7 linked regions of the Homo sapiens genome follow. The protein of the gene in region 4 interacts with the protein of the main gene of each other region in a pairwise test. Each region holds a gene or a part of one and is shown on either strand. Other genes may lie near its edges.

Region 1 (3,500 bases), about 54 Mb from region 4:
ATAATTAACATGATCTCACTTGGGCTGCTCTGCTGAGAGTAGATTACAGAATAGAGCAGAACAAGAAGGAGGGCACTCTAGTATTCCAGGCGTGAGTGATGGTGGTTTGAGGCAGGGTGATGGCTGTGCTGACTCAGCATGGCTGGTTAGTTTTATGCACTCTGGTCCTTTCCATGGTGACTCCAGATGTTTCTGCTTTGCCCCCTTCTGGGCCCGGCCCTGGCAGTCACTGAGGTGTCAGCCAGTGTTGAGCCAGCATCGCTTTCTCCATCTAAGGTTTCTGAGGGAGAAGCCAACAGAACAGGTGGCTGAGGAGCTCTTCAGATGTGCTCTTAGGGGCACTCTCATCCAGATGTTCTATTTCAAACTAAATGGACTTTTCTGGCTGCCTTTTCAGAATCCTTTATGCCCAGCGCATCTCCCTGGATGGTGGCCCTAGCTGTCATCCTGACCGCATCTCCCTGGATGGTGTCCATGACTGTCATCCTGGCTGTTTTCATCATCTTCATGGCTGTCAGCATCTGTTGCATCAAGAAACTTCAAAGGGAAAAAAAGATTCTGTCAGGGGAAAAGAAAGTTGAACAAGAGGAAAAAGAAATTGCACGTAAGGAATTTGTAAAGAAAGTGTGGAAAAATAGAAAGAAATTCAAAAAGAAAAGTTAAATGAGTAGGAGGACAATTGACTGTCATAGAAAGGCCACAGCTCTCACAGGTACCGGCTTAGGGAAGAGAGAGAGGAAATGCACAGCAGCAGCCACAAGGGCTTGGAACTCTCATGTCATAAGAAGTAATCATTCAGAGCTTTCTTTCTTCCATGCTGCACACATTACATTCATTCACCTGGCTATATGCAGCACTACATGGCTGAACGAAAGTTCAGACAAAAGTCTAACAATGTACTGATACTACCCAGCCATCTGATCATACATCATTGCTGGTTTCTGACTGTTCCTTAGGCATAAACGAAGGGTGATGTTGGTGTTCATAGAAAGGATGGTTCCTACGTTGTTTAATACAAGCTCAATTTCTCTTAGTTCTTCTGTTGAAGACATGATTTTGTTTCTGTATTTTGTTTTCAGAGCAACTTCAAGAAGAATTGCGTAAGTTTAGCCTTTCCTGAACTACTCCGTGTACAATTTGTGTTCTGCTTACTTAGCAGTGTCTCGTGACATTCACCTCTGTCTGTCCCTTGCAGGATGGAGAAGAACATTCTTACATGCTGGTGAGTGCCTCTGATGTTCTCTCAGATCTCAGCTTTCTCCCCACTAGCCAGCTAACAGGACTCCTTAGAGGAGATGAGCAAGGGGCCCAGGGCTACACAGGGACCATAGGGAACTGGGGTCAGTTCATCAACGGTGTCCCAGCAATGATGCATCATGGCTCTTCTGTCAGGGAACCCCAGCAGCTCTTAATGAACCCTGCAGTTTACATCCCCAGGACCCTTTCTCTTTTGGAATAATTTAATGCATGATTATCAAAGGTTTCCCATGCATAGTAGCCTCCTAAGAGTTACATTTCAGAAGTCATTGCTCTTTGATTCTGGATCAATTTGAAATAAGATAATGCTGTCTTAGCAATTCATATCCTGGGAATGGTATAGACTGTGCACAGTTGAAGACCTATGTGAGGAAAAGGCCATAAGGGTCCCCAGTAAGCCTGATGCAATGGTGTACAAATAGGTGGCCAGAAATACCTTTCTGCCTCTAAGAGAGCACTGATATTCTGCATGTAGTCTGCCAGGGGAAGGGGTTTGGGTGAGTGGGAGGGTGAGTGGGAGAGCACAGAGAAACCAATCGCCCACTTCCAGTGAGTTCTCATCTTGTGATTCGGCACCTCTGCCTGTCAGCACCAAAGAATCCAAACTTTACCAGATACCAGGGCCCATGGACCTTTCCTCTTTGGCGAGTTTCAAAATTGCCACTGTCATTTTGGGACACAATCACAACTTGTCACAATCAGACATATCAACTTGTGGAAAAGAGAAAATCATTTTAATGCAATAGAAAGGTAGACTGAATAAGTAAGAATACATGCAGAAGGTAGAGGTTTGCAGAATGCTCAGCTCCTGGGGCTTTTCCTGTATGGGAGAAGTAATCCTGGTAGATGTCAGACTCATATTGTTAAAGCAAAACTGGATTGAAGTATTTCTTCCCTAACTTTGCCCACACATCCCTCAGGCACCAGGTTTTCTTTTGCACACATTTATTCTCCTTCTTTATCCTTTGAAGTGTGCCCTTGTCAGCCACTTAAATCAGTTGTCACCTATTAAAACAACCTATAGGACCAACGAAGAGGTCCTTCACCACCTAGGACAGTGTGTAATGATAGACTCACTTAATTGATCCATTGAGAGGTATGTGGGGGAACAATAGGAGATAAAGCTTCTGTGATGGTTTAAGCCAAGTTGGAAAGTTTCTAACTAAAGAAAGTCCCAGAGATCATATATCTTGAATAGAAAAGGGATCAGATCTTAGAATGCTGAGAAAAACTGGGAACCATTAATTTTGGCTCATTTCCTAAACTCTCTGGATTTCATAGAGCCACAATTCTTCTCAACCTGGGGGCACTGCTTCTGTCTCTGGAGAGATAGAAGTGCAGCTTCCGTAATTCTCAGGGTATGAGCTGCCTGGGATCAGGGGACCTTCATGGAAACGGCCACTACATGGGGAACCCCCTTCAGCTTTCTGAGACTTCTCTGGGGACCAGGAACCACACAATCCCCAGGGTTCCTGAGACCCCAGGCATAAACCTGAGACTTCCTCTGCAGCTGATGTGGTCCTGGATCCAGACACCGCTCATCCCGAGCTCTTCCTGTCAGAGGACCGGAGAAGTGTGAGGCGGGGCCCCTACAGGCAGAGAGTGCCTGACAACCCAGAGAGATTCGACAGTCAGCCTTGTGTCCTGGGATGGGAGAGCTTCGCCTCAGGGAAACATTACTGGGAGGTGGAGGTGGAAAACGTGATGGTGTGGACTGTGGGGGTCTGCAGACACAGTGTTGAGAGGAAAGGGGAGGTCCTGCTGATTCCTCAGAATGGCTTCTGGACCCTGGAGATGTTTGGAAACCAATACCGGGCCCTGTCCTCCCCTGAGAGGATTCTCCCTTTGAAGGAGTCCCTTTGCCGGGTGGGCGTCTTCCTGGACTATGAAGCTGGAGATGTCTCCTTCTACAACATGAGGGACAGATCGCACATCTACACATGTCCCCGTTCAGCCTTTACTGTGCCTGTGAGGCCCTTCTTCAGGTTAGGGTCTGATGACAGCCCCATCTTCATCTGCCCTGCACTCACAGGAGCCAGTGGGGTCATGGTGCCTGAAGAGGGCCTGAAACTTCACAGAGTGGGGACCCACCAGAGCCTATAGAATCAATTCCTTGGACTCACAGCCATGCAGATAAGCCCTGGCCATCTCAGCAGCCACCGCACAACCCCCCTAATGAAAGACACGCCCTCCTCCCCTCTGGTCACGTAAGAGAACATCTTCCAGCTGCCTTTTTCACACCC
Region 2 (3,921 bases), about 39 Mb from region 4:
TTTCTCTCAACGTTTAATATTAGAAGTGTTTGGGGTCTTTATTGAGAAGTTTGGTGATGTTTTTGTGACCAGAAATATGCTATAGGAACTTAACTCTTGTTTACATCAATCAGCCTAGGGTAAAAATGGTTTTGTTATATGTTGTTTTGCGTAAAGTCATGGTTTCCAGGAACTTATGGAAGACACTGAGGATTACTCCAATACTTGTAGTAAATTTGGGAGAAAAAGGCAAGGACTAAAGTTACTACTCCTAACACAAATGAGACGGTCATGGTGTGCCCCATCAAAAAAGGAGAGAAAGAGAGACAGACACATAGAAACACGTGCACATACACACACACACACACACACACACACACACACACAGAGAGAGAGAGAGAGAGAGAGAGAGAGGGAGAGAGACTATAGAAACATGATGTTATAAATAACAATAGTGCTGAGGAAGATGAATTAGTGTAAAATTGTATTTTTTGTTCTGAGGATAGGTTACATAGATGATTCTAATCCATTTATTATTTTTACATTCCAGGCTACCTAAAAGAAGACAGTTATCTCATATTTGGCTGCCAGCTTTTTATCTTTCTCTCGACCACTTAAAACTTCAGACTTCCTGTCCTGCTGGTATCATGGAGAAAGTCCAATACCTCACTCGCTCAGCTATAAGAAGAGCCTCAACCATTGAAATGCCTCAACAAGCACGTCAAAAGCTACAGAATCTATTTATCAATTTCTGTCTCATCTTAATATGTCTCTTGCTGATCTGTATCATCGTGATGCTTCTCTGAAGTTCTGCTACAACCTCTAGATCTGCAGCTTGCCACATCAGCTTAAAATCTGTCATCCCATGCAGACAGGAAAACAATATTGTATAACAGACCACTTCCTGAGTAGAAGAGTTTCTTTGTGAAAAGGTCAAGATTAAGACTAAAACTTATTGTTACCATATGTATTCATCTGTTGGATCTTGTAAACATGAAAAGGGCTTTATTTTCAAAAATTAACTTCAAAATAAGTGTATAAAATGCAACTGTTGATTTCCTCAACATGGCTCACAAATTTCTATCCCAAATCTTTTCTGAAGATGAAGAGTTTAGTTTTAAAACTGCACTGCCAACAAGTTCACTTCATATATAAAGCATTATTTTTACTCTTTTGAGGTGAATATAATTTATATTACAATGTAAAAGCTTCTTTAATACTAAGTATTTTTCAGGTCTTCACCAAGTATCAAAGTAATAACACAAATGAAGTGTCATTATTCAAAATAGTCCACTGACTCCTCACATCTGTTATCTTATTATAAAGAACTATTTGTAGTAACTATCAGAATCTACATTCTAAAACAGAAATTGTATTTTTTCTATGCCACATTAACATCTTTTAAAGTTGATGAGAATCAAGTATGGAAAAGTAAGGCCATACTCTTACATAATAAAATTCCTTTTAAGTAATTTTTTCAAAGAATCACAGAATTCTAGTACATGTAGGTAAATCATAAATCTGTTCTAAGACATATGATCAACAGATGAGAACTGGTGGTTAATATGTGACAGTGAGATTAGTCATATCACTAATATACTAACAACAGAATCTAATCTTCATTTAAGGCACTGTAGTGAATTATCTGAGCTAGAGTTACCTAGCTTACCATACTATATCTTTGGAATCATGAAACCTTAAGACTTCAGAATGATTTTGCAGGTTGTCTTCCATTCCAGCCTAACATCCAATGCAGGCAAGGAAAATAAAAGATTTCCAGTGACAGAAAAATATATTATCTCAAGTATTTTTTAAAAATATATGAATTCTCTCTCCAAATATTAACTAATTATTAGATTATATTTTGAAATGAACTTGTTGGCCCATCTATTACATCTACAGCTGACCCTTGAACATGGGGGTTAGGGGAGCTGACAATTCGTGGGTCCGCAAAATCTTAACTACCTAATAGCCTACTATTGACCATAAACCTTACTGATAACATAAACAGTAAATTAACACATATTTTGCGTGTTATATGTATTATACACTATATTCCTACAATAAAGTAAGCTAGAGAAAATGTTATTTAGAAAATCATAAGAAAGAGAAAATATATTTACTATTCATTAAATGGAAGTGGGTCAACATAAAAGTCTTCATTCTCATTGTCTTCACATTGAGTAGGCAGAGGAGGAGAAAGATGGGGAGGAAGAGAAGGCGTTGGTCTTGCAGTCTTGTCTTAGGGGTGTGGGGAGTGGGGGAAAGAATATTCATGTATAAGTGGACCCTTGCAATTCAAGCCCTTGTTGTTCAAGGGTCAACTGTAATAGGATATAGCTATTTTTCTTCCTCTATCAACCAAATGGTAAGCATCTATTTTGCAGTCCACTCTACTGAGCTAAATTATAGATCCAGCTATGCTATTTATAATTATTTTCTTGATGAATAAATTTTCAATTTCTCCTCTGACCATTTCAGAACATCTTCCAATAACTCATAAAACAACTGAAGTAAAATTGAGTGCTGGAAAATATATTCACCAAACTTTGGTAATTTAAGTTGACTAAAGTTTAAAATTAAGTCTAAAATAGTTTACACCTATACTGCATAATCCAACAATTTTAATTTCAGTTGAAGACATGTTACTAATATAACTATTATTAAAAGAGTAGAGGATGTGTAATTAACCATATCTTCTAAAACATGGTTACTAAAAGAATATGTAACATCAATATTGACCTTGGTTTCTTACACAAGTGTTGCTAACTCAATAGTGAAGGAGACACTATTAAATTTTCTGAACCCATGAGAGATACTAGAGATGGGGAGTGGAAAGTGTTTGGTTCAGGGATATCTGAAGAACAGAAGGGCAGAGATTTCTTAAGTGACGCCTCATCTACAAGCTGGAAATTCCTAAAAACAAGTAGAAAGCTTATAAACAACAGGTGATACACTCACCTCACTGGTTTTAGTAAATTACCAATACAGAAAGTATCCCTAGTCTTAAAAACAAGTGGAAAATTTGAACTGATTAGTCATATTCCTTTGATTACACTGTTTGTTACAATATTTTTCTCAGTAAACAGAAATAACTAATTTTTTTGTTCTTCATTCTTTGATAGAAATTAAAATCTTATTCTGTGAGGATTACAGAATACTATAACTCAAATTATAAAGTAGAATAAACTCTTTAAATAATTATTCTTCATCATAAAGTGTAAAGAATAAGATATAAGAAAACAATTTATTTTTAAAATTTAATATACTAAATGCTCAAATATGTTCTACTATAGAATAAGTTCTTATCTTAATTTACAGGGCACTAAAAACAATTTTAAAATGCTTAATGTTGCCTTTTATATTTTAATTGGTTAAGAATATATATTTGTTTAATGCAAATCAGAATCACTATATTAAAATGAATGTTCTTGAAAACTCAGTGGGGCTGCTCTATAATACACTTACAATTGATACTAACGATAAAACGCTCTAATTATAGTTTTAATTTTATAGGGGTTTTTTTGGTGACTTTCCCCAAATAAAACAAAATCAAGACGCCCAAGTCCAGACACACAAGAGGGCAGACGTATATAAGATAACAAATTGCTACTACATAGCGATTATTTATCTTTTGATTATTTTTGAGACTTCTGGCAAAGTAGGACTATAATAAATTTTCAGAAAAGATCTGCTCTTCTGCTAAGTAACAGCACACTTCAAAATGTCCAGAAATTTTATGCTAATATTACATAGAAAACTTGACAGATGAAAAAAGTGAAACACATTACTAATTTTATTCATTAAAACAGGTATATAAAAGTCCTCTTTAACTACCTAATGAATGTGTCATATCCTAATATAGGGAGTGTCATAGTGTTCACATCTTTGAATATATAAATTATCTCAAACAGTTAAAAAATTAAAGCCAGAACAGGGTAC
Region 3 (3,500 bases), on a different chromosome or scaffold from region 4:
GGTGGCCTCTGCCTTCCAGGGACTCTCAGCCTAGCCAGAGAGGTTTACCTCTTTCTACAAGTGTCTCAAATCCAGGGGGAAGGTGGGGTTTGCGCAAAGCCTGGAAGGATGAATTCTTGGGCAGAGGTGGAGGGGTGAGGGGCTCCTTCTAACCAGATGTCATAGAGCCTTCTCTCTCTGCCACCCCCTGGAGGTGCCATGGGGCCTGGGGCTCGGGGTCATGCCCTCCTGGCTCCCTACTCCCAGCCGTGGATTGCAGAAGATTCTGGTCCTGGCCCCTGTTACGGAACAAGGCCTTTCCCTTCCACCCTCCCCCTTCAGAAAATCCAGTCCGTCTTGGAGGAAGAAAATCTGTGTCTTTCAGAGAAGTGTAGGCAAAAGAAAAGGGCCAGGTGCAGTGGCTCGCGCCTGTAATCCCAGCACTTTGGGAAGCCGAGGTGGGCGGATTGCTTGAGCTCAGGAGTTTCAGACCAGCCTGAGCAACATGGTGAGACCCTGTCTCTATCAAAAATAAAAAATAAAAAAAAATTTAAAGGAAAAAAATGTTTTTAAAAGAAAAGGGATTTGGAATCAGAACTGGCTCTCAGGCTCGTGCCTATAATACCAACACTTTGGGAGGCCAAAGCAGGAAAATGGCTTGAGCCCAGGAGTTTGAGACCAGCCCTGGCAACACAGTGAGACCCCATCTCTACAAAAACATGAAAAAATTAGCCAGACATAGTAGCGTGCACCTGTAGTCCCAGCTACTTGGGAGGCTGAGGTGGGAGGATTGCTTGAGCCCAGGAGGTCAAGGCTGCAGTAAGCCATGATTATGCTACTGCACTCCAGCCTGGGCAACGGCAACAGAGCAAGACTCTGTCTCAAAAACCAAAAAAACAAAAACAAAAACAAAAAAAAACGGCTCTTGGCTGGCCGGGCGTGGTGGGTCACGCCTGTAATTCCAGCACTTTGGGAGGCCGAGGCGGGTGGATCACGAAGTCAGGAGATCGAGACCATCCTGACTAACACGGTGAAACCCCATCTCTACTAAAAAAAAGAAAATACAAAAAAAATTAGCTGGGCATGGTGGTGGGCACCTGTAGTCCCAGCTACTCAGGAGGCTGAGGCAGGAGAATGGCGTGAACCCGGGAGGCGGAGCTTGCAGTGAGCAGAGATCGCGCCACTGCACTCCAGCCTGGGAGACAGAGTGAGACTCCGTATTAAAAACAAAAAACAAACAAAAAAAAACGGCTCTTAGTGCCTGACCTCTGGATCAGTCCTTGGGCAAAGCACTTAACCTGTAGGAGCTACAGTTTCCTCATCTGCAAGGCTAACAAATACCATTCAGCACACCTCACCAAGGCTGAATTTCACAAATCTAAACTCAAGAGAAGAAAGCAGCGGCAGAAGAGTGCATGTACTAGGATACCACTTAATATTATTTCAAAACAAGCAACGCAGCCTTTTGCATGGAGACACAGGCTAAGGACATGGGCGGCCACAGTGAACTCTAAATCCAGGATCATTGTTATCGGTTGGGAGGGCAAGAGCAGGCAGGGGAGCCAATTGGGCTTGGAACATCTTATCTCTTAAGGTGGATGAAAGGGATATGAATTTTCTTTCTTTCTTTCTTTCTTTCTCTCTTTCTTTCTTTCTTTCTTTCTTTTTCTTTCTTTTCTCTCTCTCTCTCTCTCTCTCTCCTCTCTCTCTCTCTCTTCTTTCTTCTTTCTTTCTTTCTTTCTTTCTTCTTTCTTTCTTTCTTTCTTCTCCTTCCTTCCTTCCTTCCTTCCTTCCTTCCTTCCTTCCTTCCTTCCTTCCTTCCTTTCTTTCTTTCTTTCTTTCTTTCTTTCTTTCTATCTTTCTTTCTTTCTTTCTTTTCTTTCTTTCTTGCAGAGTCTCGCCCTGTCACCCGGGCTGGAGTGCAATGGGGCGATCTTGGCTCACTGCAACCTCAGCTTCCCAGGTTCAAGCATTTCTCCTGCCTCAGCCTCCCGAGTAGCTGGGATTACAGGCATGCACCACCACGCCCGGCTAATTTTTTGTATCTTTACTAGAGATGGGGTTTCACTATGTTGGCTAGGCTGGTCTCAAACTTCTGACCCGTGATGTGCCCATCTTGGCCTCCCAAAGTGCTGGGATTACAGGGGCGCACCACCGTGTCCGGCCAATATTTTTCTTACCATCTTGTTATTTCCAAAGTATTTCCTAACACAACTTAAGGTCCTACCTTCAGCTGGGACCTGGTAGCATCTCTCACTGAGATAGGCATGTGTGTCTTTTGTCTTTTAGCTCTTTGAGGAGTTGCAGGAGCTGCTGACCCATGACACCAAGGACCAGAGCCCCTCACGGGCACCAGGGCTTCGCCAGCGGGCCAGCAACAAAGTGCAAGGTGAGAGCATCCAGGAAGGGGCACTTCCTCTGGGCTACACATGGAGGGACTTGGCTGTCTGACTGTAGTATCTCTATTCCTCTGTTTTCTGAATGTTTGGTGGTGGTGGGTGTTGTTTCCTGCTGCCCCACCCCACTGCCCCTGTAAGGACAGGTTCTCGCTATATTGCCCAGGCCAGTCTTGAACACCTGACTTCAAGCAATCCTCTTGCCTCTGCCTCCCCACATGCTGCAGTTACAGGCGCGAGCCACCATGCCAGCCTGAATGTTTGTTGTTGTTGTTGTTTGAGATGGAGTCTCACCCAGGCTGGAGTGCAGTGGCGCGATCTCAGCTCACTGCAACCTCTGCCTCCCGGGTTCAAGCAATTATCCTGCCTCAGCCCCCCGAGTAGCTGGGATTACAGGCGCCCACCACCATGCCTGGCTAATTTTTTTTTTGTATGTTTAGTAGAGATGGGGTTTCACCATGTTGGCCAGGCTGGTCTCGAACTCCTGACCTCAGGTGATCCGCCCACCTTGGCCTCCCAAAGTGCTGAGATTACAGGCGTGAGTCACTGTGCCCGGCCACCTGCGTGTTTTTGTATGAGAAGTGGAGTGCAGGCAAAAGGACCTGGGGTCAACCTTCAGCGTGTGGCTCTGGGCAAGCCATGAGACTTCTCCCTACCTCAGTTTCCCCACCCGTAAAATCCAGTGAGGTTCAGCTACTTCTAGCTTATTGGCTCAGAAGTGCACAAGAACCCCTCAGAAATCATGGGAAACTCCTGCCTCCTTAATTTAGACTCCTTTTTAGGCCTTTGGTCCCCTGATGTGGGCCAGGGAGTTGGGGACCTGTATCCAGCTATGAACCCACCACAGGAAGATGTCCCTTCTGAGTCTTGTTGTGTGTGAGCCCCTCCCTCATGTGCCTAAGAACGATCAAGGCTGGCTGTACTGAAACATCTTGGAAACTTCCAAAAAGACCAAAGTGCTCCACAAAATGTACCCTCACTAAGCCTAAAACACTGAGGGAGGGAGTGTGGCTTTGGGATGGGTAGCAATAAAGAGGTAAGGCTTAGCTACCTCCTGGCAGGTTATATTAGGCCTCCCCTCCTGTGCCACCCTAACCTACCTGGCTTGTGGCTTTCTCACTTGTG
Region 4 (3,500 bases):
ATCAACACTGCCTAAATAGTACAAATAACAGATTCTTATTTAGTTCTTTTTACTTTTTAAAATTTGCTTTATAAGAAATAGGTAGAGGAATAGAGCAACAAAAGTATACAGATATTTAAGCGTCTGTTTTGAAATAACATTGCTTTTGTTGCTGTAACACTATACCTGTTTAATTATCTGGATTCCTTGAATAACCAAGAGCCAACTATTTTATCGAAAACAGTAGCAATAATATTAAAGAATAAAATTATCTCAATTATATATTACATTTATTTTGTGATACTCAGCTTTTGAGGATGGCATATTATGTCGTTTTAGGCAAGTTATTCATGACTCTTTGGGTCTCTTATTTCTACCTGTGCTGTGAGAGGGTTGAACTACATAACCTTTAAGGCTTAGTTTATTGAATCCTTATAACATCTCCTAAAACAGCAGCCTAGATATCAGTCTAAACTCAGTCTTCATATTTTTCCAATAGAAAATGTGAAATTTTAACATACATCATTACAAATGATTTTCTATTATAAACACTTTATATATGAGCATTTTTTACTTAAGTTTGGAAGTATGGCTTAAGATTTTTGTAAAATTGATAAAAATGTGTAGGTCTTACAGAAGAGAAAACAAAAGAAACTAAATGGTTTTGGTATAAGTATGTTCCTTAACTAATCAAAATACAAATTTTTAAAATCTTTTGCCATATATTTTTCTTCATGAAATATTACCATTTGTAAACAAATACCTTAGAATGATGTTTTATTTATGATTATATTGTATTAGAGTAAAATTTTTGGAATTTGAAAGACAAATGCATTAGTCCACTGAGGAAATCAGTTACTCACTGTCAGGTATAATCACATAAAAGCATTTGTGATTTTGAACTGCAGAATTCCAAGAAACAAGCTTTTCTGTTTTCATTTTTATTCACTTATCAAACAAAAACTTGAGCACAGATGTGTGTTTTTAACTAATTTTATATATTTTTTCACACACGTACATAGCAGCATTATTCACAGTAGTTAAGAGGTGGAAACGACCCAGATGTCCAGTGTTGGATAAATGGATAAACGCAACGTGGTATATACATACAATGGAATATTATTCAGTCTTAAAAAGGAAAGAAATTCTGACATGTGCTACAACATAGATGAACCTTGTTACTAAGTGAAATAGTCTAGTCACAAAAAGATAATTATGTATGTGGCATTATGGTTCCACTTATATGGACCCTCTACTGTAGTCAAATTCGGGCTGGGCCCAGTGGCTCATGCCTATAATGCTAGCACTTTGGGAGGTGGAGGCTCAAGGATCACTTGAGCCCAGGAGTTCAAGACCAACATGAGCAACAAAAAAATATTAAAAATTAGCCAGGCCTGGTGCCATATGCCTCTAGTCTCAGCTATTGAGAAGGCTGAGGGAGAAGGATCACTTGAACCTGGGAGGTGAAGGCTTCAGTGAACCATAATTGTGCCACTGCACTCCAGCCTGGGTGACAGAGTAAGATCCTGGCCCAATAAATAAATAAATAAATAAATAAATAAATAAATAAAGTAGTCAAATTAATAGAAACAGAAAGTAGAAAGATGTTTGCTAGGGCCTGGGGAGAAGGAGAACTGATGACTTGTTTAATAGGTATAGAGTTTCAGTTTTTCAAGATAGAAAAGTTCCAGAGAGTCACAACAATGTGGATATGCTTAATGATACTGGACTGTACACTTAAAAATGATTAAGATGGTATATTTTATGTTATGTGCTTTTCTTTTTACCGCAATGCAAGAATTTCATATATTATAAAATTAATACATTAGCACCTGTAGAAATGATCTCTTTAGTGCTCAATGGTAAAACAGTCAATTCTTCTTTATTTTTTCAATTTAAAGTAAAATGACTTTATAAAGAGACTATATAGCTGTTGGCTTAAAAAAAATCCGAGTGGCTAGAAAGTAGCAAATAACAAGAAAGAAAACTTTAGCTTTGTATTTTGCTTTATGGTTTTACAAACAACTTCACAATAACTCTGGGAGATAGGCCTTGAAGGCATTTTTTCCATATATTTAGAAGTCTTTGAGATTTACAGAAGTTACGTAACTTTTGTAGGTGGTCACTATAGTGCAAATGAATGTGCATGGGTTGTTTTGTCCCTAGCCCAGTGCTCTTGTCTTCCCGTCACACTAGCCAAGCAAGAAAGAAATAATCAGGCCTGTAATCTGTGTTTCTCTTTTATTTTACCTTTTCTTTTATTGTTATCTACAGAGTATCACTGTTTAGAATACTAAATCTGAACAAAGTCATAATATTACCAAAGATCATCTAAAGAAAGACATCTAAATATTCAAAGGTGCTATAAAGGCTGGTGTATGAGATTAAACTACAAAGTGATATTTATTCATATACTATATACATACACAAATATGTGAATATATGTAGAATACAAAATGCGATATTTAGCCTGAGAAGATGGTTAACTTCCATATGACGGTGTAGGATTGTTTAAAAAAAGTGTATTCAAAGTGAATTATGAAAGTATTTGCCAAATTGCATAATACAAGAGCTAGAAACTTGTTAGTGAAAGGATAATGAAATTCATTCAGGACTAACCGTATTTTACCCAGTGGCTATTCAACTTATAGAACTGTTAGAGTCAAGGGAAGATTTTGGCTAAAGTTCCCATTAACTCACACACTCACACACTCTAATGGTATCTTCCATCTTTTTTGCTAAAGGGAAACACCATTTCAATTTTCTTAAAGCTTTGAGTTCATTGGCAGCATTGGGTGGATGGTTGAACTTGGAACTCCCAGATTAAGTTTTATGACTACTTTTTCTGAGAAGCCCAGCAAAATTGGAAACAAGGAGAGAAGGAAACTACTTGTATTCTGATCTTGGCTTCCAGGAAACGAGGCAACATTCTTCAGCTCTCTCTCTCGAGATATATTTTCTCCCTTGAAATTGTCTCCTTTTCCCTTATGAACTGGCTTTTATGAATAGGCCATTTTCTGAAGTCATGAATTTGGACATCACCTGCACTTGGGCATGGTGGCTCACGCCTGTAATCCCAGCACTTTGGGAGGCCGAGGCGGGTGGATCATTGAGGTCAGGAATTTGAAACCAGATATCGTCTGCACATGATGAAACTCACTACCATTTATTGAGCATTTAGTATAGGACCATTTTAAGATGCTGTAGTACTGTATTTGATACACCTTATATTTAATTTTCAGATCATCTCTATAAGTTAGATATTATTTAACCATCTATAGATGAAGAAATAGACTCAAAGCTACATAGCTAGAAAGTAACAGAGTTGGAATAGGATCAAGATCTTTCTCCTTCCCAACAGTGACCTTTTTATAATGCAACATAGCCTACTTATTTATTCAATAAATACCATTTTATTGCCCAGTAATAATAGTGAACATTTATTGGATGCTTACTAAGTGTCAGGCACTGTGTCCAGTGTTTTATATGTATTATCACATTTAGTCCTCATATTCCATTGG
Region 5 (3,342 bases), on a different chromosome or scaffold from region 4:
CGTCAGTGGAAACTTGGGTGGTTTTATTTTGTTTTTTTTGTTTTACTATTTGGAGAGTTTCACATATGTAACAATTATTTTGCTGTAAAATTATTCTTGACTTATATGTTAGAATTGAATATAGCAGCCAGGCACAGTGGCTCACGCCTGTAATCTCAACACTTTGGGAGGCCGAGACGGGTGGATCACTTGAGGTCAGGAGTTTGAGACCAGCCTGGCCAACACGGTGAAACCCCATCTCTACTAAAAATACAAAAATCAGCCAGGCATGGTGGTGCCCGCCTGTAATCCCAGCTACTTGGGAGGCTGAGGCAGGAGAATCACCTATGGGAGGCAGAGGTTGCAGTGACCTGAGATCAAGACATCGCACTCCAGCCTGGGCGACAGAGTGAGACTCCATCTCGGGGGGAAAAAATTGAATATAGCAAAACCCACAAAATCTGACGAGTGCAGCCCAGGAACCGGAGTGAGGGACAGAGCTGGGGTTTAGGGACTAGGCTGCCCACACCCCAGCCCTGAGCCCAGCCATGAGCCAGCGACAGCTCATGGGGACTGACTGGGGTTCTGAGAGACAGAGGCTGGCCAGGGAGGGGATGAGCATCAGGAAGTAGCAACCAGCACTGGGGTGGGGTTGGGGGTTAGTGACTCTGGTGCTTTTCCTTCTGGGGTGGAGGTTCCAGAAGGCTCTACAGAGCTCCGAGACAGAACTGGGATTTCAGGAACCCTCGAGGTACACCTCATAGGCAGGCCCTTACCATTATAAAATTGTTTCTGATTACAATATTAAACAAGGATTGGGGGAGGGGGATTGAAGATATAAAATGGCTAAAAAGAGGCTTGCTGATTTTCCAGTATATTTTAGTTTGGGGGACAAGAAAATAGCTGTCCTCACCTTGTCCTGCTGAACCTGGGGGTGGGGGTAGAGCTGGAATGCAGAGGTACAGCCCTGACCCACCCAGCTGAGAAAAGCCCAGGGAGACTCCGGAGGGGCTGGGCCTGAGGAAGGGGCACCTGGGCTTCAGTCTTGGGGTGGAAACACCCCCACCTGCACCCGCACCCACACCCTGGAGGTGCAAGTGGCTTCTGCGGCCGGGCACGGTGGCTCACGCCTGTTACCCCAGCACTTTGGGAGGCTGAGGTGGGTAGATCACCTGAGGTCAGGAGTTCAAGACCAGCCTGGTGAAAGCCCATCTCTACTAAAAGTACAAAAATTAGCCAGGTGTGGTGGCACACGCTTATAATCCCAGCTACTCGGGAGGGAGGAAGTTGCAGTGAGTCGAGATCCCGCCATTGCACTCCAGCCTGGGTGATGAGCAAGACTCTGTCTCAAAGACAAAAAACAACAACAAAAAAAAAAGAGAGAGAGAAAGTGGCTGCTGCCTGTGGAGGGCCTCAGGCCCGCGGCCTGCCCTGATGCCAGCGATCACTGGGAACGGTAGAGTCAGCTGCAGGAGGCCTGCACCCAGGCTCCTGCCAGCAACCCAGCTGTGCTTCCCCAGAGACCGTTCCCAGGCACCGCTGCCCTGAGCCTCCTGCCAAGCATCCTCTCTGCTTTCCTTTCAGAAGAGAATTCCGACTCGGACTCTGACTGAAGGCCTGGCGGGTGCCTTGGCAACCTGAGCCACACAGGCCTCCACCCCTGCGCCTCACAGGGGTCGCTGGCGTTGGAGCGGAGGCCTGGACTTCTGAGTTGCAGAGGGGGCTGCGGACACAGCAGGCCCCCTACAGCCTCAGGTTCTGCCTGAGCCCAGCCTACCAGGCTTGCCCCTCAGCTCAGCACTGTTGACCACGCTGCGTATGAGGGCATCTTGGGTATCCCACTCCTTCTCCCCATTTCTGTCCCACAGGCCTTCAGCCCTTTAACGTCTCTGCCAAAAACCAGCACAAGGAGACAAAGCAGAGCCTTGTCTGTATCTGGGCAGCAGGTGTTCCATGCTGCTAGGTGGCGGGGGTCGGGGGTCTTCTGTTTCACTAACAGGAACAAAGACAGAAACCATGACAGGGCTGCCCCGCCAGGCCCCGGTGGGTTTGTCTGCACTTGGTGCTCCTGCCCACACCAGCCACTTTGGTGACAATGACCCTTCCAAGAATCTTTGGTTCAAGGAGCACCAGTTCCCTCTTCATTCTTGAAGCAGGGAGAAATTGACCTTTGCCTTGTCGCCCAGGAAGTGGGGCTCGGCACCCATAACTAACACCTCCCACCCTTGGAAACCATGTCTTCTGGGGGTGAGATGACCATTCTGGGTCTAAGACTGTTTCAAAGAAGAGCTCATAGACTGACTGGTCCAGAAGACAGAGGGTACAACAGTGGCATCACAGTGACAGTGTCATGGGGAGCTGGGCGGGCCCAGCCAAACCCTCCTTCTTCCTAGAGCCCAGCCAGCAGGCAGGAGTTCCTGGACCCTCAGGACAGTGAACTTCCAGACCTCAGGGCAGGTCTATGGGCCACTGCAGGAGATGAGACCAGCCTTCTGTGTTCACCTAACGATTTATACTGTGTATCTGTCTTTGATGGAATTTTGTAACTTTTTATATTTTTTTATGCAAAAGCAGCTTCTTAACAGATGGCATTTTCTGTGACTCTAGGCCTCACAAAAGAGCCAGAGTTCTGGACCCATGTTTGGAGCATTTGTAGCCTTATTCTCTTGCGTGTGAATCTCTTACCCTGAAAAAAAGCCATAATGAATTAAGCCAGACTGACCACTTGCTTGGAGTGTGTGCTTGAAAAAACCAGAGCAATACTGTTGGGTATTGTATCAGGCTTCAGTACAAACTGGTAACACCAATGTGGATCCTGACAGCTTTCAGTTTTAGCAAAAATACACGTGAAATCTGACTACCATTTAATCCTTTATTTCCCTAACCTTTTTGGCACCAGGGACCAGTTTCGTGGAAGACAGTTTTTCCATGGACTGGGGGTTGGCGGGTGGGTTGGGGTGAGGGTGGGAGGGGATGGTTTCAGGATGAGACTGTTCTATCTCAGATCATCAGGCATTAGATTCTCATAAGGAGCACACAACCTAGATCCGTAGCATGCACAGTTTACAATAGGATTCGCATTCCTATGAGAACCTAATCCCACTGCCAATCTGACAGGAGGCAGAGCTCAGGCGGTAATGCCGTTGCTTGCCACCCACCTCCTGCTGTGCAGCCTGGCTCCTAACAGGTCCCATGGTACCAGTCCACTGCCCAGGGGTTGGGGACCCCTGCTCTAGTTCTCACACTACCCTGTTTTATAAACAAAGAAACTGAGACAGAGGTCGGGTAACTGGCCCAGGGCCCTCTCACTTACACATCAGGATAGTGTCTCACGGCAGCCTCAGGCAGCCGGAACCCTGGGGC
Region 6 (3,500 bases), on a different chromosome or scaffold from region 4:
ATCCCAGCACTTTGGGAGGCCAAGGTGGGCGGATCATGAGGTCAAGAGATCAAGACCATTCTGGCCAACATGGTGAAACCCCGTCACTACTAAAAAAAAAAAAAAAAAATTAGCTGGGCATGGTGGTGCGTGCTTGCAGTTCCAGCTACTCAGGAGGCTGAGGCAGGAGAATCGCTTGAACCTGGGAGGTGGAGGTTGCCGTGGGCCGAGATTGCGCCACTGCACTCCAGCCTGTCAATAGAACGAGACTCTGTCTCAAAAAAAAAAAAACAAAAAAAACGCAAACCTCCAGAGAGGTGGAGCTAACATACTCAATCCCTAGGAAACTGCTGGAGACCAGGAGAGTTCTAAAAGATGCTTGTTAGCAAATGTCCCAATTTACCCAAGAGGGAAAGATACAGGTCCTGCTGCATGGGCTGGTAAGCCAGGCAAAAGTTTAGGCCATATAATAGTTTTTTAAACCCTCCAAAAAGGAAGAGATGGGTTTTGAGAGTTGGCATGGGTTTGAGAAAAATAAGCCACGCCAAATGACTCTACTGGCTTTTTCCCTTATAGGCTGCCTAAGGGGGCAGACTGGAGAAGGCCACAGTTACTGTGTATCTTGAAGCCTATATATATCTTTATCTACTTAGACCCTTGACAATACAGGTGGCATGGTCACGGGGCTCAGGGATGCCTGAGAGTAGGCTTTGGCCATTCTGAGCACCTTATATTCTTGAGCCCAGCACATTCTCTGAAGCCACCATGCCACCGCCACATAGTGTTCCCATGCAGAATCACCTTCCTCACACCCTTTGTCTGGCTGTTTGTTCTTCAAGACTCCGCTCAAACAGCACCTCCCCTTGGAAACTTTCTCTTCTGCTGAGTATGATTTAGAAGTTCCTTATCCATGCCAGCCAAGCACCCTGTAAACTCTGCTGTCACTATCGCAGTGCGCTTTCCCTGGGCTGCAACTGACAGCTTCCTTATCTGCCTCTCCCAATGCCTGCAAGTACCCAAACAGGATTGTATTTCCAAAGCCCGGCACAGTGCCAGGCACAGAGGGGACCCTCAAGACATGATGATTGCTTGAATGAGTTTTGCTTAGAGGCTCAAAGTCAACCTGAAAGAGGTTGTCTCTGATTGTGTTCTGTGGGTTTCTCCAAGTCTAGACTTTTATCAGTGACTTGGAAGAATAATATATTTTCAGGGACCATAACACTGGGAAAAAAGGGTAAGTAGATCAGAGGCTTAAAGTTCAAGGTCTGACAATCTACAGACTGGTCATACAGCCTGAAAACATAGCTAACTTTTTTGTACAGGTTTATTTTCTTGATTTTCCTGTGGTATGATAAAGGCATAGTTTTGTTTGTTTTTATTTTGTTCTTTTTTTTTTTTTTTTTTTTTTGAGACGGAGTCTCGCTCTGTCGCCCAGGCTGGAGTGCAGTGGCACAATCTCGGCTCACTGCAAGCTCCACCTCCCTGGTTCACGCCATTCTCCTGCCTCAGCCTCCTAAGTAGCTGGGACTACAGGCACCTGCCACCAGGTCCGGCTAATTTTTTTGTATTTTTAGTAGAGACGGGGCTTCATCGTGTTAGCCAGGATGGTCTTATCTCCTGACCTCATGATCCGCCCGCCTCGGCCTCCCAAATGCTGGGATTACAGGCGTGAGCCACCGCGCCCAGCCTAAAATTTTAATAGAAGTAATCGTTCTTCTTTGAGAATAAAAAAAAAAGTCATAAAGTTTTATATTAGGTCTCAAAAAAGGTCAACTAGATATCTACAGTATGAGGAATATCTGGCTTTATCCATCCATCCATCCATCCATCCATCCATCCATCCATCCATCCATCCTAAGCACTAACTATGTGCTAAATACTAAACTAGGATCTACAAATTTAATGAAAAATAAACACTGTCTCCCCTGAGCTTATATCCTACTGGAGGGAAATGAACCTAAGTAAGTAAACTAAATAACTGCAACTGCTGATGAGGGTCATGAGTAAAATAAAATAATATGTGATGGAGACAGGAGAGACTTGGGATAAAGGGGTATGTAGATGTGTTTCCGGGGTTGCAGGAAGTTTATCTGAGGAAGAGCTGGGTGGCATCTGGCTGGCCATCAGCTAGACGTGAGTCAAGGATGTGCTGCAACTGTTAAAAAGTAACTGCAAGCCTGGGTCACATTAATAGAGGCAGAGTGGTGAGCAAAATCAAGGGCAGTGACAATCCTACTGCCTCTGTGGTGGTCACACTGCTTCTAGACCACCTTCTGCAGTTGCAAATGCTATACTTTTTTTTTGAGACGCAGTCTCGCTCAGTTGCCCAGGAAGGAGTACAGTGGCACGATCTCGGCTCACTGCAAGCTCCACCTCTGCAGTTCAAGTGATTCTCCTGCCTCAGCCTCCTGAGTAGCTGGGACTACAGGCGCGTGCCACCATGTCCAGCTCATTTTTTGTATTTTTAGTAGAGACAGGGTTTCACCATGTTGGCCAGGATGGTCTCGAACTCCAGACCTTGTGATCCTCCCCACCTCGGCCTCCCAAAGTGCTGGGATTACAGGCGTGAGCCACTGCGCCTGGCTTTTTTTTTTTTTTTTTTTTTTGAGACGGAGTTTCACTCTTGTTGCCCAGGCTGGAGTGCAATGGCGCGATCTCTGGCTCATGGCAACCTCTGCCTTCTGGGTTCAAGTGATTCTCCTGCCTCAGTCTCCCAAGTAGCTGGGATTACAGGCATGCGCTGCCAAATGCTACCCTTTAAGAAAGTCATTGAGCAGATCCAGAAGAGGAGTCTAGAAACCACATCTTATGAGGCAAGGTCGAGAGATTTAGGGAAGCTTAGTTTGCAGAAGGAGCCACCAGGCAGTCATCTTTAAAATATCTGATGATTCAAGGTGCTTAGAGGAGAACGAGTCCATTCTGTGTTACCCTAGGAGTTCAAATCTGAACAACTGAGAAGACAGCATAGTGTAATTCAAAACAGGAGAGACATTTCTAATAGAATTCCAGCAGACATGGAATAGGCTTTTTGAAGAAGTATTCAAATAGGGATTGGGTAAACAGCTGTTTAAAAGATGTCCTTAAAGATACTTCTTTGGGAATAGAGTAGAACTGTCTTTCTTTGAGTGTAAGATTTTCTCATCTTGGAATGCCAAATCATCTTTAAAATATTTGAGCCACAAGCAACAATAATGCCAAGTACTTTGGATCCTTCCTTCCTCCTAAGAGTTTTTGCTTCTTTGGAAGAGTGGTCTCTTGAAGATAAAAGGAACTGATCCATCTTAAATTTTTTTTTTAATTTTCATGATTTTAGGTTTGAATGCATGATTCATCTTTAGTCATGGGCTTCTCTTGTCATTGGGGCAGAGGCTGTCTTGCTGGGAGGCCTAAGCCTGAGCAGGAAGATGTGGACCTTCTGCCTCCCTGCCCTCAGTAACAGTGAGATGCTGGAGGGTGGGAATCCCTCAAGGCATGCTGTGTAGTTAGAAGAAGTGACCTCCACTCACAAGGATTTCTGAGAC
Region 7 (3,500 bases), on a different chromosome or scaffold from region 4:
TGCAGTCAGGAAGCCCAGCCCATTAGCACCCTGTCATCAGAGAAAGGACTCTGGTCTCCACAGTTAATTACTCACTGTGCACAGACTGCTTGTCTGCCGTCTCCAGGCGTCCCATGCAAGACTGGATCTCGTGGACCTGCCTATCAAAGGAAGAGGGAGGAAATGAGTGAGACAGGAGTAATCAACAGCGCTTCAGTCAGGAAAGACAATTTTTCTGATGCCAACATGTAACTGATTTAAATCGACAGCATCACTGAACTGTAAAATTTGTATGTGGCACTTTAGGTCCCACGTTTTGGCATGGTTTCTAATATCTTAACTACTAACAATAACACTGATAGGCAGATTATGGGTGCTTACCATATCCAAGATACTCTGCCAAATCAATAACCCTATGAGGAAAGTACCATTATCATCCTCATTTTATAAAAACTGAAGCCCAGAAAGGTTATGTAACTTGTTCAAGATCACACAGCAAGTGATAAACCTCAAACTGAACCCGGCCAATCCTACTTTCTGTTCTACGACCTAATGTGCTAAGCACTGGCCTGTACCAGGAAGAGTCAAAGGGCGAGGGAGATATAATCCTTGTCCTTGAGAAACAACATAATGAGGAATGACAGGCTAAACAGACATGAACAAGCCCTGGGAAGATTCACGAGAAAAGCAATACACATAAGTATAAACAAACAGAAAGAGGGGCAGCTCTGCACAGTGGTGTCACAGGCAAGCAGACAGAGGGGTGGGGCTGAGAAAGAGAAACCAGGTAAGTTATGTGGATGGAAAGAGTTCTGAGCATCGCTGTGAAGAAGGGAGACATCATTTGGTGAAGGAAGATAGAAGAAAATGATATGCAAAAATTCATTCAAGACATGTGGATTACAAGTAGGGTGGGCTGCTTGAAAGGGAATCGGGTTGGGGGAGAGGATGCTGAAGTGACTCACTGGAGGAAACCATTCAGAGGAAGACCCTGAGACAGGGACCTTCTGTTTGGTAAACATCCTTCTCCGACAATATCAAGGAACGAAGGAACTGCCATCTCATTTGGAAATGCAACACTGTACCCTGGATCTGGGTAACACTCTCTGGAGGCTTCCCACGGTCTGGCCAAGGTCATCCTTAAGACCCCCTTCCTAATGGTCCTCCATGATCAGTCCTCGGGATACTGCTTATGCTGGCCCCACCATCCACTTCCCGGTGCTCACGGTGGAGATTTCCCCAAGTTAGGGCCCACATGAAGGGGGCCTGCTGGACTCTCACATCATCCCCAACGCTGGAGGAAAGGTCAGCAACCATTCTGCATCGTGAGCAATGCAAACCAGGACCCCAAATCTACCAATGCCAGCCAGGCACCCAACTTTGGCTTCAGCTTGTGCCCAGTCTTTTCCAGGGCTTCCCTATGGCCTCCAGATATGCCCTCGGGCACCAAAAGAAGCTGGGTGAGCTGTCAAATGACTCCCCAGGGTGCTCCTAGGCAAGACCTGTGGCCCTGAGAAGCAACTAGAAATCACTGCTAGAGTCCGAGACCAGGCCGTTGCTTCCGGAAAGTAAGTCTGGGATATTGTGGGATGATGCGGGGGTGTGGAGGTATGGGGGCTGATGTAGGAATGCAGCCTGAGGTAGCCGACACCTGAAGCAGGGCAACCAAGGGAACAGGTACAGGGGACCGGAGGGTAACGGGGACAGAAAGGAGAATTAGGACTCTAAGGAAGTCCTGACGCAGGCTGTGAGGTAAATTTTCAATGCTGATTTAACAGAAAAATCTGAAAGTTGGTAATATGATCAACACGAACAGTGACATAATAAAAAGGGGGGAGGTAAAGAATAGCCAAGACCACTCTGAAGAAGGAGGGGGAGGAATGACTTGTCCCACCTGCCATTATGACTTACAAAGCAGTAACAATGGAAACAATATGGCGGCAGTGCAGGTGCAGACAGACAAGGAAAGGCAAACCCTACAGCTGGCCCAAGAGGAAAGAAACAGCCTAGACACAGCCCCACGTTATTTGGGAGCTTTTGAAAGAAGGGACTACAATAAATGCCAACAGCTCCGGTTTGTTACCCGTACAGAAAAAGGCCACCTCAGGTAACACATAAAAATAAACTCAAGCTCACTTAAAACCCAAATGGAAAAAGCAGAGCAGCTTTCAAACTTTCTGAAGAAAATACAGGTGTGCATAAATGACCTCGGGTTACAGAAGATTTCTTAAATAAGACAAAATCCAAAAACTACCCACCCCCACAAAACCCACAAACCACAAAGAAAAAGATGGATACATCTGACAACATGAAAACAAAAAACTTCTGTACACCAAAGCCACAAAATAAACAAATGAATGGCACAGACTGGAGGGTATCTGCAGCAGATAACAAAGGATTGACGTGCAGAAAATATATAAAGAATTGTTACAAATCAATACAAAAAGTCAAACAAGGCATTTTTTTTAAATGAAAAAAGGGCAAATGACAGAAAAGAAAACCCAAATGGTCAATCAATATACAAAATGACACTCAACTAGGAAAACACAAATGAAAAGCAATGAGATCACATTTCTTCAGCCCATCAAACTGACAAATATTTTAAAGTTTGGGGACATATGCATTAATAAGGAAACAGGGAAACTAGAACTCTCATACCCAGCTGGTAGGATTATAAATTGGTAAAACACTTTAAATGCTTTCTGACAATAACTAGTAGAATAAAGCATGTGTCCATGCTATGACCCAGCAGTTTGAGGAATGTGTCCTAGAGAGGTTCTGGCATACCCTGAGGAGATGTACATGGCAGGACGTTCATCAAAGCACTTTTGTACAGGCCCATAATCCACTGACTTTTCCCATCAAATCTCTATTTGCTTTGAACCAATCAGAGACAATGTGGCCAATAATACAATTCCAGCGGCTACATTTCATGCTAAGAAAACATAAATATGAAACAACAAAGCAAGTATGAATGGCAAGGTGGGAACTACTAATATGCCAAGTGCAAAATCTGTCTCAAACTGAACTGGGAATTCTAACACAACATAACACACTGGAAGTCCATAAGAAACAGGTGATACACAAGCATGACTTGGGAGCGTGGACATGAGGAAAAAGAAGTCTTAGCCCTCTCTAGCATGGGGTCCATGGTGGGCTTGGGTGATAATATAACAAAGCAGAGAAATAGTAGCAAATAAGCCAGGGTCATTGTAGCCGTCTTTAAAAAAGGTTTACAGAAGATCTAGGAAGAATTTTTTAATGGAAGTGCTTTTTAAAAGTTCATGAAACTACTCACCGCCCCCCACCACCCCATAACATCCACTTTGCATCCAGGCTGCCTCTGACCATGATGAACATGAAAACGCTGTGTAACCTACACAGCATCATGTAAGTTTGTTGTTAACTTTACTTAAAAGTAGTGGCAACAATCTGGTCATTTTCATTTCACTCACTTTGCCTTTACATTTCGCTCATTAAAGGGCAAAATCTATAAAGGAAAAACATGGTCTTGAGATAAG

Evidence for each region.
Region 1: the proteins of ELOVL4 (region 4) and BTN2A2 interact in binary tests that used the Homo sapiens proteins (3 or more experiments, as listed by UniProt).
Region 2: the proteins of ELOVL4 (region 4) and PLN interact in binary tests that used the Homo sapiens proteins (3 or more experiments, as listed by UniProt).
Region 3: the proteins of ELOVL4 (region 4) and HMOX1 interact in binary tests that used the Homo sapiens proteins (3 or more experiments, as listed by UniProt).
Region 5: the proteins of ELOVL4 (region 4) and CMTM3 interact in binary tests that used the Homo sapiens proteins (3 or more experiments, as listed by UniProt).
Region 6: the proteins of ELOVL4 (region 4) and SERP2 interact in binary tests that used the Homo sapiens proteins (3 or more experiments, as listed by UniProt).
Region 7: the proteins of ELOVL4 (region 4) and GOSR2 interact in binary tests that used the Homo sapiens proteins (3 or more experiments, as listed by UniProt).

The regions. Positions count from the first base shown.
Region 1 is NC_000006.12:26,389,608-26,393,107, forward strand, and holds part of BTN2A2 (butyrophilin subfamily 2 member A2 isoform a precursor), read left to right. Parts: intron 1-397; coding exon 398-604; coding exon of another isoform or gene 605-663; exon of another isoform or gene 664-1,079; coding exon 1,080-1,100; exon of another isoform or gene 1,101-1,195; coding exon 1,196-1,222; exon of another isoform or gene 1,223-2,538; coding exon of another isoform or gene 2,539-2,688; exon of another isoform or gene 2,689-2,767; coding exon 2,768-3,360; 3' UTR 3,361-3,500. UniProt on the Homo sapiens protein: Inhibits the proliferation of CD4 and CD8 T-cells activated by anti-CD3 antibodies, T-cell metabolism and IL2 and IFNG secretion.
Region 2 is NC_000006.12:118,558,296-118,562,216, forward strand, and holds the end of PLN (phospholamban), read left to right. Parts: intron 1-529; 5' UTR 530-626; coding exon 627-785; 3' UTR 786-3,421; downstream 3,422-3,921. UniProt on the Homo sapiens protein: Reversibly inhibits the activity of ATP2A2/SERCA2 in cardiac sarcoplasmic reticulum by decreasing the apparent affinity of the ATPase for Ca(2+).
Region 3 is NC_000022.11:35,387,596-35,391,095, forward strand, and holds part of HMOX1 (heme oxygenase 1), read left to right. Parts: intron 1-2,268; coding exon 2,269-2,368; intron 2,369-3,500.
Region 4 is NC_000006.12:79,937,554-79,941,053, reverse strand, and holds part of ELOVL4 (very long chain fatty acid elongase 4), read left to right. Parts: intron 1-3,500. UniProt on the Homo sapiens protein: Catalyzes the first and rate-limiting reaction of the four reactions that constitute the long-chain fatty acids elongation cycle.
Region 5 is NC_000016.10:66,611,046-66,614,387, forward strand, and holds the end of CMTM3 (CKLF-like MARVEL transmembrane domain-containing protein 3), read left to right. Parts: intron 1-1,563; coding exon 1,564-1,592; 3' UTR 1,593-2,842; downstream 2,843-3,342.
Region 6 is NC_000013.11:44,380,324-44,383,823, reverse strand, and holds part of SERP2 (stress-associated endoplasmic reticulum protein 2), read right to left. Parts: intron 1-3,500. UniProt on the Homo sapiens protein: Interacts with target proteins during their translocation into the lumen of the endoplasmic reticulum. Protects unfolded target proteins against degradation during ER stress. May facilitate glycosylation of target proteins after termination of ER stress.
Region 7 is NC_000017.11:46,926,160-46,929,659, reverse strand, and holds part of GOSR2 (Golgi SNAP receptor complex member 2), read right to left. Parts: intron 141-3,500; coding exon 76-140; intron 1-75. UniProt on the Homo sapiens protein: Involved in transport of proteins from the cis/medial-Golgi to the trans-Golgi network.